Linked DNA regions of Homo sapiens: region 2 is linked to region 1. A link means that fine-mapping ties the variant in region 1 to the expression of a gene that starts in the linked region. Tissue or cell type: prefrontal cortex. Region 1 holds a variant in brackets; the other region holds the start of a gene. All regions are shown on one strand. Distances are between the middles of the regions.

Region 1 (2,680 bases):
AACCTACTGTGAAATATTACACAGCAATTAAAAGTAATGGTCATGGATGTCTGGTTCAAGATGGTTGGCTGACCACTTTCCTGAGACACCATTAAAATGACAAAGACATAAAAAAGCTACAGCCCACAATAAAGAAGGGAATGGAGGGTCCATTTGCAGTTGAAAGCTTCTGTCATACTTCTGGAAGGCACAAAGCAGATGGCAGTGATTAGTGAAACAGGGTAGAGACAACTGTAGGCTAAAGCAGTGTTGGTCTGTCAGAACAAACGTGTCCAGAAGCAGAGGCATTTCTGTGTTCAATGCTATTACAGAGAAACAAACATGTTAAAACACACACACACACACACACACACACACACACACACACACAAAGTGGCTGTACTATGAGCAAATTCTTCCTCCATTTTCTAAACTTTGTACAGATGGTTATATTATTTTTACAATAAAAAGTCTACAGCAAAGTATGGCAACTCCAGCTGAAATCAGATTTAAGGAGCACTAAAATGGAGGAGATACACATGTAAAGACATTAACATTTCTTAAGCACCTAATATAGGCAAGGCTTTGAACTATGCATTTTATGTTACCTAACACGTGAAATAGCTTCTCAAAGCAGGTGTTATCAACCCCCTTCTACATATAAGGAAACAGCCTCAGAGAGGTTAAGAAATGTGCCTAGGGTCACAGTTAAAAAGTGACAAGAGGCCAGGCACAGTGGCTCAAGCCTGTAATCCCAGCACTTTGGGAGGCCAAGGCAGGTGGATTGCTTGAGGTCAGAAGTTTGAGACCAGCATGGCCAACATGGTGAAGACCTGTCTCTACTAAAACTACAAAAATTAGCTGGGCGTGGTGGTACATGCCTGTAGTCCGAGTTACTCGGGAGGCTGAGACAGGAGAATTACTTGAACCGGGGAGGCAGAGGTTGCAGTGAGCCAAGATCGCGCCACTGCACTCCAGCCTGGGTGACAGAGTAAGACTCTGTCTCAAAAAAAAAAAAGCAATAAGAGCCAGGCACAGTGGCTCAAGCGTGTAATCCTAGCACTTTGGGAGGCCGAGGCAGGCGGATCACTTGAGGTCAGTTCAAAACCAGCCGGGCCAACATGGTGAAACTCCATCTCTACTAAAAATACAAAAAAATTAGCCAGCCCTGGTGGCAGACACCTATAATCCCAGCTACTTGGGAGGTTGAGGTAGGAGAACTGCTTGAACCCAGGAAGTGGAGGTTGCAGTGAGCCGAGACTGCGCCACTGCACTCCAGCCTGGGCGACAGAGTTAGACTCCCATCTAAAAAAAAAAAGTGACAAGAATGAGA[T/C]GCTGTCTGACTTCAAATCCCTTGCTCTTCTTTCCATATCCCGATCCCATCTCACCACTTCAGCGGATGTCACCAAATAAAATCAATCCATGTTGAAATGGCACTAAGCTTCATGGCCGGGATTAGGCAAGAGCAATTCTCAGAGTTTGAGAAAGCTCTGAGAAGCATGAAAAGGGACCTTCAAGGGACAAATACCTTCCTGTGATTCTTCGGATCAGCAGAGAGTCTGGGATGCTGAATTCAATCACAGAATCAAGCTTCTCTTTCCTCTTCTCCATGAGGTCATCGAGCTGTAAAAGAATGTGTGGCCCACCTAAGCTACCAGAGCTTGGTTAGACCCATCTCCTTCAAAGGAATTAAGAAAGACAAAGGACAAGAATTTGGTTTCATGCAGTAGTAATATAAAAACTAAGCTACCCACCATTTCTGCCTGCCTCACAGTCCGAGGGAAGCCATCCAGAAGAAAACCATTTTTGCACAAGGGGGTCTCCAAATTCTTCTCAATGAGCTCCACTACCATTTCATCACTCACCTGGAAGTTAGGAACAAAATAGCCTTGGGTTTAAATCCATTACCTAGGTGACTGACATTAGCCCAACTCCACAGCCAAAAGTTTGTGTATATAACCTTATTACTAAACAGCAAGTTTTCTTGGACCCAAAGAAGCAAAAATAAAAGCAAACGTGAAATGGCTCCATTTGGAAGATCCAGTTTCATAATTTTATCTCTGTGGTTGCCAAATACACACTCTCGTCTCTTGAAATTCTCCTGTATCCCAAAAATCTGGGTGAGGGAAGACAGATTCCATTACTTGTTACTTCACCAGGAGAGCTTTGTATCTTAGGTCCTGAAGGTCCCTCCTGCCACTAGAGTCCAGAGTCCAAACTGTCAGATAACAGCTTATCAGCAATCAGTGATCCTCAAGGCACAGGAAATGTGAGGACAAATGGCTGACAGACCACCTGAGAGAGTGCCAGGAGAGAATGGGGTTGACCAAAACACAGGCATCAGCTTTCCCTGTTCCACAGCTGTCATTAGGCTAACAGTAACGTGACTGATGTGTGTACTTGGTTACACATCTGGGCCATCCTGGACATGAGGAAACAGAGAAGTTCACTGAATTGGCAAGATTGGGTCAGAACCAAGGAACTGAAGAGCCAAGCCAACACTCTTCCCTCACTTTTTTTTTTTTTTTTTTTTTTTTGAGACAGTCTCATTCTGTTGCCCAGGCTGGAGTACAGTGGCACAATCTCCCCTCACTGCAACCTCCACCTTCCAGGTTCAGGTGATTCAAGTGCCTCAGCCTCCCAAACAGCTGGGACTACAGGCGCACACGACCATGCCCAGCTAATTTTTTGTATTTTTAAT
Region 2 (2,680 bases), 120 kb before region 1:
CCCTCTGGGCCCCAAGTTCCACATCTATAAAATGGGGAGGCATTGGTCCAGCCAGTGTCTGAGACCCCTGGAGACTGCAGGACCCTCTGGAGCTGAACCAGGTCTAGCAGAAGCAGAGGGCAGACGATGGGCTGGACAGGCACCATGAGACTGGAATAGCATTGTGAAGATGGACTGCCAGCCAAGCAGGAAGGGGCATGGCAGCTTCAGCGCAGGAGCCTGACCCACCTCACCCCCTCCACCCACCTACCTGGGAGCTCGGTGTCTACCTTCCAGCTGAGGGCTGGACTCAATAACAACAGCATCCCAGGACCAAGACTTTGGTCAAAGAGGAGGCACGGTGCCAGCATGGGGCTGTGCCTGGAGCACTGGACTGAGCCTGGAGCAGTCCTTGACTTTTTAAATTAAATTGATTGAGACAGGGTCTTACTCTGTAGCCCAGGCTGGAGTGCACTGGCCTGATCGTGGCTCACTGAAACCTCTGCCTCCTGGGCTCAGGTGATCCTTCCACCTCAGCCTCCTGAGTAGCCGGGCTAAATTTTTTTTTCTTTATTTAAATTTTTTGTAGAGACGGATTTCACTATGTTGGCCAGGCTAGTCTCTCCTGGACTCAAGCGATCCGCCTGCCTCGGCCTCCCAGAGTGCTGCCTCCCAGATGAAGCCCAGCTGGCTTCATTTGTCTTACCACTGTGGGAGCGCATAGCAGCGCAGCCGGCAAGGTGCTAAGCGCTTTACTCTTAGAAGCTGCCCTCATCCTCATAGTAGTCCTAGGAGGTGGGAACTACTGTCCCCCTCTTACAGACAAAGAAACTGAGGCTCACAAGGTCTCTCGGCTAGACAGCGGGGATGCCCCAGGACTCTGCTGCCCACAAGCAGCATCACCGTGCCCAGGCAGTGGAAGGAGGGGGCACATTAGTCCCGCTCCCCCGCTGCTGATCCTTTTTGCCCACGGCTTTCCTTCCTGGCCTCGGGAGAGTGGAGAGTATGTAAGTGGGAGCCCCTTGTAAGGGTGGGGAAGCTGAGGCCTGGCCCCGGGGTCCCTTCTGGGTAAGATGGGGCTGCTCTCTCCAGCGTCTCCTCTGCCGCCCACCCGGGGGTCCCCGAGGGCAGTCGTGCGCCTCCGCAGGAAAGGCAAGAGAGGGCGAGGGTAAGAGACGCTACAGCCACATCGAGAAGACACCCGCAGCGCTCCTCCCCTCCATTTCACTGCTGGGGAAACTGAGGCCCAGAGAGGAAAGTGACCCGACCCCGGCCTCGTAGTAAGTTAGAGGCAGAGCAGGTGGCCTGGCCCCCTGGGGGCTCGGGTTCCGGGCTCAGTGCTCCGCTCCTGTGGGAGGGTTGGGGTGGTTCGGGGCCTCCCGCGCGCCCCCAGTCGCTCACCGAGGCGCAGACACATGTCGGCTCCGCGCTGGTCCCGCCCCCGGCTTCAGCGCGGCTCCCGAGGCTGCGGGCCGCCGGGGGACCCTGCTCCCATCCCGCTGGCCCGTCGCCCGCGCGCCCCGCACCGTCGCGCTCGCCCACTTCCCGCCCGGAGCCCGGGGCTGGGCGGCGCCGGACCGGCCTCCCTTCCCGTCACCCCCCGGGCCGCCCGGCCCCGCAGCGCCCCCGCGGCTCGTGCCCCTCCCGGCCGGTCGGACCGGCTGAGCAGCCCATGGCCCGCCCGCTGAGTCAGGCGCCGCCCCGCCCGGCCCGCCCGGCGCCGAGCCGCCCTCCCTCAGCCCACCGGCGGCGGCGGGCCCGCTCTAGAAAGGGAAACTGAGGCTCTGAGGAGCCGCCCCGCGCGGGCCCGCGGCAAGTTGGGGGTTGCCGGCGTAGCTGTGGTTACCGTGACTTGGGTGTGGCTCTTGGGCGGAAAGCCCCCGGGCCCAAGGCTGGGACGGAGAGGGGCAGCAGGGGCAGTGAAAGAGCTGCTGGGGATTGGGGTCTGCCCCTGCCTGCTGTGTGACCTCAGGCAAATCGCCTCCCCTCTCTGCGCTTGCCTTTAGCGCCCGCGAGTCTTGTCTTCCACGCTGAAAAAGGCGCTTTAAGTCTCCTTCTTAGTCGGGAGGGCCTTCAGTTCCGTCCTTGGAAAATCAGGGATAATTCCTGTCCCCGAAGGTCGTGGTGAGACAAAATAGGATACAAAAATTAGGTAAGAAAGCGCTTTCGGCCGGGCGCGGCGGCTCATGCCTGTAATCTCAGCACTTTGGAAGGCCTAGGCAAGCAGATCACCTGAGGTCAGGAGTTCGAGACCTGCCTGGCCATCATGGTGAAACACCCCCGCACCCCCCCCCCCGCCCCGTCTCTACTAAAAATACAAAAATTAGCCGGATGTGGTGGGGCAAGCCTGTAATCCCAGCTACTCTGGAGGCTGAGGCAGGAGAATCGCTTGAACCCGGGAGGCAGAGGTTACAGTGAGCTGAGATCTCGCCACTCCATCTCAAAACAACAAAACAACAACAACACGCTTTGGAAACTCTCCAGACTGTCTGTATGGACAAAGTGTAGACCTAGCAAGAGCACATAGTAGGAGCTTTATTAGTACTGCTCTGGGTTGCTGAGCCCTTTAATGTGTCAGGATGGACCCCAGTGAGGTCCCTTGTTAGTCTCAGCATCCCTTTGGCATAGGTACCATTCCTGCACCTTTGGGCTCAGAGACCACAGACCACTCACCCAAGACCACCAGCTGGAAGTGGTGGAG

Direction of the effects. Positions count from the first base shown, and alleles are read on the strand shown. Sizes are in standard deviations (SD) of each study's normalised expression.
For the expression in prefrontal cortex of the gene that starts at base 1,547 in region 2, allele T in region 1 goes with a higher level than allele C (large effect, 1.3 SD a copy in GTEx).

The links. PIP is the estimated chance that this variant, and not a neighbour inherited with it, causes the effect.
Region 2: TMEM54 starts here. The variant in region 1 is fine-mapped to the expression of TMEM54 in prefrontal cortex (GTEx, PIP above 0.99).

The regions. Positions count from the first base shown.
Region 1 is chr1:33,019,860-33,022,539 of GRCh38, forward strand. It overlaps AK2 (adenylate kinase 2), which reads right to left. Exons shown (of 6, transcript NM_001625.4): 3 at 1,734-1,844; 4 at 1,508-1,602. Among named protein-coding and RNA genes, the nearest start is that of AK2, 16 kb to the right of the region's middle. The variant T/C (reference allele first, on the strand shown) is at 1,313.
Region 2 is chr1:32,899,843-32,902,522 of GRCh38, forward strand. TMEM54 (transmembrane protein 54) reads right to left here and starts at 1,547. Exons shown (of 6, transcript NM_033504.4): 1 at 1,381-1,547. The coding sequence starts at 1,396. It overlaps LOC105378632 (a long non-coding RNA gene), which reads right to left. Exons shown (of 3, transcript XR_947161.3): 3 at 1,815-2,085. RefSeq lists a silencer at 1,537-1,676.